2 separate regions of the Homo sapiens genome follow, and region 1 is linked to region 2. Evidence: fine-mapped expression QTL. A gene starts in region 2. The other region holds a variant in brackets. All regions are shown on one strand. Distances are from middle to middle. Region 1 overlaps NFXL1 (nuclear transcription factor, X-box binding like 1). Region 2 holds the start of NIPAL1 (NIPA like domain containing 1).

Region 1 (4,527 bases), 150 kb after region 2:
TTTGCTTATAAAGATGATTAAGCTGTTATATGTCATACAGAATTTTTAATAATTACGGCTTTTAGCATTGAAAGGTATCCTTTGTTACATTTAATACTTTTGGCTTGAATTCTTATGCATCCCCTTTTTCATTTTAGTAGGCAAGTTAAGTAAGTCCTTTAACAATTTTTAATATCACTAATATCTTTGGTTTAGCTCTGAATTATTACTTTATGATTACTGTTTGTATTATGTCACTTTTTCTTTATGTGATACGTTTTCTTTGCTCTTACAATTTTCTCCTATTAAGGTTTGTTTTCGTTTAGTGGTTGATTACTTTTTTTTTTTGTACGTTTTTAATGTCTTTAGACCCTTGTTTCTTCCATCTTTTACTAACTGGTTTGTCAGCTTTTAATTTTATCACCTGGTTCTCATTTAAGACTGTATGACAATCAGTGAGTTTGTTTGCCTTTTTTTCTCTCCTTCTCTTCTCATTGTTTAGTTGCATGTTTTATTCTTTTTCAGAACATATGACATTTATATATTATTCTACCCCCATTCCGACCTTTTTTTCTTTTTCTTTTCTATTTTTTTTTTTTTTGAGACGGAGTCTCGCTCTGTCACCCAGGCTGGAGTGCAATGGTGCGATCTCGGCTCACTGCAAGCTCCGCTTCCCGAGTTCACGCCATTTTCCTGCCTAAGCCTCCCGCGTAGCTGGGACTACAGGTGCCCGCCGCCACGCCTGGCTAATTTTGTTTTTGTATTTTTAGTAGAGATAGGGTTTCACCGTGTTAGCCAGGATGGTCTCTATCTCCTGACCTCGTGATCCACCCGCCTCGGCCTCCCAAAGTGCTGAGATTACAGGCGTGAGCCACTGCGCCCAGCCCTTTTTTTCTTAGATTTTCAATTTTGAATTTCAACCATCAGTCTTTTTGCTGAAATTTCCCAATCTTCTCTTGGTTGAATGAAGTGCATCCTCTAGTAGTTTCTCCAAGAGAGCTTGTGAGTATAGTATTCCCTGAATGCTTAATTCTTAAACATTCCCTTGCATGTTTTAAGAATGTTTTGCTATAGCATTTACAGTTGTATAAAAAGTCTTTTATTGATGCGTTCTTTCCTAGAGTTTCTTGGAAATGTGGCTCTATGCTGCTTTCGTTTATATTTTACTTTTGAGAAATTTGATGCCAGTCTCTTCTCCTTATGAGTTAATTGATCTTTTTTACCTGGGACCCCTAAAGTTGTTTCTTTCTCCTTCACTTCCCTCCTCCTCCTCCTCCATCTTTAAAATCTAATGTTTTTATTAAGGTACGACTCAGGGTTAATAATTTTTGATAAATTTTTTCAGGTACCTGATTAGCCCTTTCAACATATAAGTTCAATATTTTTATTTTCCTGGATTATAGTTTTAAATACCAGATCTGTTTCATTTATTTTGTTTTTTAGTGATATCAATTGTATATATGTTGGGTTTTCTTTTTCTGTCTCCCATTTCACTCAATTACTTCTTTGATACTTTTTTCTATATCTCATTTTTATCATCTAGGATGTTTTGCTGCCTCGTTTCAGGGAGCCTTATTAAATTTTGATTCAAGTATGTTCTTCTGTAAATATGTTCTTTCATGAGCACCTTGTAATTTAGTTTTTATTTCTGATGTAATTTTATCTTAATTTTTTTTTTCCTGAATTCAATCAACCTTTGTTCATTTCTTCTCCATTATGTTCTTAGGTTTTGCTTTTCTGACTTAAGGTGGTAGTGTATTGAAGAGCCCTATACCATGCTCATATTGGGTAATTTGCCAGGACTCACAGGACTCAGCATATAGTTATACCTACTGCTATGAGTTATTACAGCAAAAGGGTAGGAGGCACAGTCAGCAAAGGGAAAAGGCACATGAGGTGAAGTGTAGGGCAAACCAGTCACAAGCGCCCAGAGTCTGCTCCCAGTGGAGCCACATAGTTTGTACTTAATTCTCCCAGCACTGAGTTGTGACAACACTTGTAAAATGTTTCCAACCAGAGAAGTTCATTAGAGCACCTAGAGTTTTTACTGGGGGAAGGCTACATAGGCAGCCTCACCTGGTACATACCAGAGTTCAGGGCTCTCAAGAGGGAAAGCAACTGTTCAGCATAAACCATTTGATTTATACAGTTTAGACATAGTCAGCTGTTCTTACCAGTTCTGGGAATGGTGGGAACCTTCCTGAAATCCAGATTCCCAAGCACCAGCCAAGGGCTAGTCTTACAAGGAGGCCTTTCAAAAGATAGTGGTCAGGTCTGCTAGGTTAACACTTCTGTATAAGCAGTGTTTCATATAGTTAATTCAGTTTGGAATATTATGTTCCAGTTTTCTTCTTCTTTGTACTTCTTTTTTTGGGTGGGAGATACAGGAGGGGATTTTCATCAGCAAAAAGGCTTTGGATGTCATTTTCTGTTTATTTTCTATAGTAGTTTTTTATAGTTGTAAATTACATATCTTTATGTTTTTGGACAGAGCTTAGTATAAGATTTCTAGTTGATGACCACTCTCTTGCCAGTGTGGGAAAATACAATTTTTTAAATGGTTGGCGTTTGAGGGTGGTACTGAGAAGAGGAGAGGAGTTATGTGTCCTTATTTTACTTTTGTTTTCTTTGGTCTTGCAAAATCCTAAATTTCCCTTCTTTTGCCGGGTCTAAAGAAGTCTGCCTAAAGTCTGCCTTTCCCTTTTTACCTTCTTCCCAGAGTGTT[G/C]CCTTTCCAAGATTGGCTACTTGAATCTTGTGTACTTATTTTATTTTATTTTATTTTGAAACAAGTCTGAAGTCTAAAGTCTGCCTTTCCCTTTTTACCTTCTTCCCGGAGTGTTGCCTTTCCAAGATTGGCTACTTGAATCTCGTATACTTTTTAAATTTTTTTTTATTTTTATTTTTTGAGACAAGGTGTCTCTCTGTCTCCCAGACTGGATGCAGTGGCGCACTCACGGCTCACTGCAGCCTTGACCTCCCAGGCTCAGGTGATCTTCCCACCTCAGCTTTCCTAGTAGCTGGGACTACAGGTGCACACCATCGCACCAGGCTAATTTTGGTGTTTTTTTGTAGAGACGGGGTTTTGCCATGTTGCCAAGGCTGGTCTCGAACTCCTGGGCTCTGGCAGTTCACCTTCCTCGGCCTCCGGCAGTTCACCTTCCTCGGCCTCCGAAAGTGCTGGGATTAGAGGCATGAGCCACTGCACCCAGCCTGGTGTACTTGTTAAAATCCATTCCCTTTAGTTAGTGCTGTGGTCTACCAGGGTATTTTCAGTATTTTCATATTTAGGGGGACCTTTTTCTGTTGTGATTTTAGCTCAGCCTCCTCTTCTGTTTTTCATTTAGTTTTTTTCAGAACTCCACTAGCTCTATGAAAATACTTGCATTGGGAGCTTGAAAAATAGCTCTCTCAGGAGTTGTTTTTTTTTTTTTCCTAGTTATAGGTAATTTGAAGTTTGTAGAAATTTGTGTCTTCTAGTTGTGCTGTGGTCGTGGGATTCAGTGATTTTGTTATTAATGAGCTATATGTTTTTTGAGGGGGACATGTGGATATATTTGGATTAAGGTGGCTTCCATTACCTCAGCACTACAGATTTTTTTTCTTAAATACATATTAAAGTATATGTTTTAATATAGAATTCTATCGCTTCAGTTCTAATAATTTCGTTTGCTTTCAATTCAGTGAATTATTTAAGTCATCTTTTCCTTTTAGTCCTGTGTGGAAAAAAACACAAACTGTTTTTCCTCTGCTCTTAAAACACAACAATCAACACAAAAGACTTTTGTGACCAAATGTGTGGGAGTTTCTTTCAACCAAGAAGAAAACAATCACTTCTGTAGCAGGCACCAGCTGGGTGTCCTCTAATTCATTTCTGAGACTACCTGGAGAAAGTGTCAGATCCTGTAGGTTGAGGGCTTAGTCCCACAAGACTGCCTTCCCTTCAGACACTGGTCTGAAGTTCAGGCCTCTGGAATCTCTGACTGACCGGCTTCAAGTTTAGGTTCACACAGCCCCCTCTTTGGGTTTGATTAATTTGCTAGAGTGCCTCATAAATCTCAGAGAAAAACTTAACTTATGTTTACTGGTTTATTATAAAGGATATTGCAAAGTATACAGATGAAGAGATACATAGAGTGAGGTATGAAAGAAGGGGTATGGTGATTCCATTCCTACCCCTGCCCCACCATTTGCATGCCACCCTCCAGGAACCTCTGTGTTCAGCTATTCATAAGCTTTTCGTACCCTATCTTCTTGGGCCTTTATGGAGAATTCATTGGATAGGCATGATTGAAGTATGGACACTCATGTAGAAGTGTGACTGGACAGAGGGTGTGATCTAGTAATTATAGACCGAGTAGGGAAACCCAACAAGGCCTGTTTCAGTTCTTTTTGGCCTGTGTGTACAGCATTCCTTCTTCCAGAGTATGGGACAGGACCCCTTCTGAAATGGGGTCTTATGACCTACAATCAGACAAGGTAGGTCAGAGAATTTCTTTACGGCCTGCTCAAGACAGAAAGGCGGAGGAAGGTTATATTTTTAGTTTTAAT
Region 2 (4,000 bases):
ATTCATATACCTTCCTTACTTACAGATCCTTGGGTAAACAAGTGTGGGTGTGTTAGTAACTGTCAGATTTGCTGGGTTAGAAATTATTTAGAAAAAGGGCACACAACCTGACTCTCTAGGAAATAATTCTAGATTCAGCTGCCTTAAAATTTTTGTTTTTTAATAGTTTGTGAGTTGTTCAGGCGTTATTGCTCTTTTTCAGAAAAAAAGACTAGAAAATAATTCTAGATCCAGCGGCCTTAAAAAATTTTTTTTAATAGCTTGTGAATTGTTCAGGCATTTTTCTCCTTTTTTTGGTGTCCCTTCTCTTCCTTGCTAGCATGGTTTGGACGAGCTCACTTGTTAAAAAGGAATAAGCTGGAAGAGTCAAGAGGAGAGGAAACTAGGGAAGTTGCGAGCACCTTTGCAAAGGTGTATATGTATATACATATATATATATATATATGTGTAAGGGAACTATATATATATGTGTATATATATAGTAGTTCTTACCATGCCTTTCACTGCCTCCCTTCCCCTTTACTGCATTATCAGGTAAATTAAAAAGCTGCTTTCCCCTTGGTACGGCGAAAACCATCATTTCAATGTATCTACATCCTTCCAGTCGCTCCCCCTACCCCCTTCCCTACTTTTATCGGGGCCTTCTGTATGGAGACTGCAGAAAACCCGCCAGTGTTGCGAACACTTGGCGAAGGGCAAGGAGCCTCGCCCAGAGATTTCACGGGGCTCAGGTGAGAAGCAGTAAGAAGAGCCTGCAAACGAGTGCTCCCGGTTCCAGGTTTCCTCTCCAGTACGGCTCTCGCCTTAAGCAGCCAGAGTGACTGCACAGCGAGTCAGACAGGCTCATGGGTTTGGAGACCTTTTCATTTCCAAGGAAGAGGAGAGACGTGGGCGGCCCAGACTTGCCCAACGCCCACCCCCGCGGCCCCGGGCGCCCAACCTCTCGCGGTGCTCGATCCCCGGGAGCCAGCGCAGGGCGCAGCGCAGAACTCCCACGGGCCCCCCAGGCAGACACGCCCTCTGCCCACCGGGTGACGTCGGCCGCAGACTCTGGAAGGGAGCCTGAGTCAGAGGAAACGTCCTTCTCAGAGGGACTCGGGATTCTTCCCATAGCATCCTGAGTTTCCCCGTCCCACACGCAGCACGCGGTAATTTACACTGGTCGGCCTCGCGAATCGAGTGGGAGTCCCACCTGCCTTATTCCACTCAGGTTTTCCAGCACAGCCCGAATCGCCTAGGCACCCATAAATAAGTGTTGAACGCCTGGCTGGACGGCCGACTGACTGAATGAATGAATGAGTGAACGACTACGTTTAGAGTCGGTACAGCCCCCCTTTCCAGTCTCCGCAAGTGTCCGGGGACCGCCCACCCGGTCTCTTCGCCACCCAGCTGCCAGGTCCCTCGGCTCAGGGCAGACACAAACCTTCTCGGCAGGGCTCTCCGGGCGGCAGCCTCACCTGTGCCCCCATGGCCCCGGGAGCGGGCTTCCGGAACGCGGGCGCTTGCTCCTCACCTGGGCCTCTCCACACGCACCCGCGGCGGGCGGGGCTGCGGGGTCTGGGAATGGGGCGCCCTGACCCCGCCCCCGGGGCAGCCTCCGCCAATGGGCATGGCCAGGCGGGGCCTCAGCGCCAGCCGAGCCCTGCTGCCCGGGGCTTGTTGCGAATTCTCAGGGCCCCCGCAGGCCTGGGAGCGGCCTGTGATAACTGGTGTATCTGGCAGGAGTAGCAGCTGCCCCTTGGCGCGACTGCTGGAGCCGCGAACTAGAGAAACACAGACACGCCTCATAGAGCAACAGCGTCTCTCGGAGCGTGGAGCCCGCCAAGGTAACTCCGGGAATTGAGTGGAGTGGAGGCTGCACTGAGGCCCCCTTCTGGCTCCTCTCTGGTCGAAAAGGCTCCCCCGCTAGAGAGAGCCCTGCTGCTTTTGGAAGCCTTCAGGTGTTAGTTGCTTTGCACCGAAGCTGCTGACTGCTGGGGTTCTGCGCCGATTGCCAGGCTCAAGTTTATTTTGGGGGCTGCTGAGCAGACTTTGCCCTTCTGTGCTGTTATCAGCTTCTGTCGCTGTCCGTCCACGCCCGCTATATCCATCCACTCTCCGTTCTGTCTCCAGCAGGCAACTCCCCCTACCCTGCCCCATTTTCTGGGTCATAGGGGTATTTGAAATAAACCTTTAAGGGAAAAGCAATGCCAAAACTGGAAAGACTTATTTCCACGAATTATTAATAACTAATGTTTATGATATCCTTGTTATACCATACATATGCAGGCACATTATGTATTAATTAAATCTCACAGCAGTCTATTAACGCTCAGTTTACAGATGAGGGATTAGAGGCAAAGAGTGAGGTTAAGTAACCAAACCAAGGTTGGAAGACCTGATAGCAGGTATTTACAAAACAAGGAGTGGGCAGGGCTGGCGGGTGGCTCACCCCTGTAATCACAGCACTTTGGGAGGTTGAGGCGAGTGGCTCTCTTGAGTCCACAAGTTCGAGACTAGCCTGGGCATCATGGTGAAACCCTGTCTCTACAAAAATTAGCCAGATGTGGTGGTGTACTCCTGTAGTCTCAGCTACTCAGGAGGCTGAGGTGGGAGGACGGATGACTTGAGCCCAGGAGGTGGAGGCTACAGTGAGACATGATCGAACCACTGCACTCTAGTCCAGGCAACAGAGTGAGACCCTGTCTCAAGAAAAAAAAAGGTGAGGGGTGGGGTAGTGAACAATTCGGGCTCAAACCCTCACCAGGGAGAACTGGGGTGCCTTTGTGCTCTGGCATTTTAACACTGAGGAAAATATTCTCATGTACTCAGGTAGCCTTTGTTCTAAGTAGGCATGAACAGTGCTATTAATTTTATTACCTAAGAGTTTCATAGCAGAGGCCTCAATCTTGTTTTTCTTGTTCTTAGGCGGATGAGAGAAGAGCTAAGAACAAATTAGTCAACATACCAGTCCAAGGCACCCACTTTTATAATACATATGGATGACTTTGCAGAGAAGGAACACCACGGAGAGTGGAATAGGTGAAAGTTGAAAGCGAGGGAGATTTATGCCAATTTTCCATAACAAGCCTTAAAACTTAGACTTCTTTTTGTTTGCTTGTTTGTTTGTTTGGCTTGGTTTGGTTTTTTTTGAGACGGAGTCTCGCTCTGTCGCCCAGGCTGGAGTGCAGTGGCGCGATCTCGGCTCACTGCAAGCTCCGCCTCCTGGGTTCACGCCATTCTCCTGCCTCAGCCTCCCGAGTAGCTGGGACTACAGGCGCCCCCCACCACGCCCGGCTAATTTTTTGTATTTTTTTTTTTAGTAGAGATGGGGTTTCACCGTGTTAACCAGCATGCTCTCAATCTCCTGACCTCGTGATCCGCCTACCTCGGCCTCCCAAAGGGCTGGGATTACAGGCGTGAGCCACCTAGCCCGGCCCAAAACTTAGACTTCTATTTAAACGTTTTCTTTGGATTTCCAACTTAAAATTTTGTCTTTATCAAAAATTAGTAATGATGGTAAACGTGATCTATGGTGCTTATTTTTTATTTAACAAACACTTGGATAGCATTTACTATGTGGCAAGCACTATTCTAATCTCTTTGTAAATATTTGCTTTATAAATCTTCATGAAAATCCTGTAAGGTAGATACTACTACCCCCACTTTACAGCTGAGGAAATGGAGGCACACAAAGATTGAGTAACTGGCCTATGCACACATAACCAGTAAGTGTGGAACCAAGATGCTAACCAAGAAAGCTGGGCTTCAAGTATGTGCTCTTAACCCATTTGGTAATTGGACATTAAAAAACAAAACAGACTTTAAAAAATGTATCTTTATTGAATTTCAGTTGCATATTAAGGTCTACTTTAGGTAAGAGGCATTTTGTTGTAGTTCTTGCTTTTCAATTCTGAAAATAAAGAGAAAAAATTCAGAAAAAAAATATTTAAACTCATTTAAGACCACTGCTTTTCCAGTTTAAATGTTGCCTAGCAGAAATTTATAATATGTATTTTCC

The links. PIP is the estimated chance that this variant, and not a neighbour inherited with it, causes the effect.
Region 1: its variant is the best candidate, but not a certain one, in a credible set for the expression of NIPAL1 in whole blood (TOPMed, PIP 0.59).

Annotation. Positions count from the first base shown.
Region 1 is chr4:47,864,372-47,868,898 of GRCh38, reverse strand. The region is part of intron 18 of NFXL1 (nuclear transcription factor, X-box binding like 1); the gene reads left to right. All of the region lies in intron 1 of LOC101927179 (a long non-coding RNA gene), which reads right to left. Among named protein-coding and RNA genes, the nearest start is that of CORIN, 29 kb to the right of the region's middle. The variant G/C (reference allele first, on the strand shown) is at 2,705.
Region 2 is chr4:48,014,309-48,018,308 of GRCh38, reverse strand. It overlaps NIPAL1 (NIPA like domain containing 1), which reads right to left and starts at 1,537. Exons shown (of 6, transcript NM_207330.3): 1 at 1,424-1,537. The coding sequence starts at 1,469. CNGA1 (cyclic nucleotide gated channel subunit alpha 1) reads left to right here and starts at 1,628. Exons shown (of 11, transcript NM_001379270.1): 1 at 1,628-1,826. RefSeq lists silencers at 902-1,061, 1,352-1,681 and an enhancer at 1,446-1,947.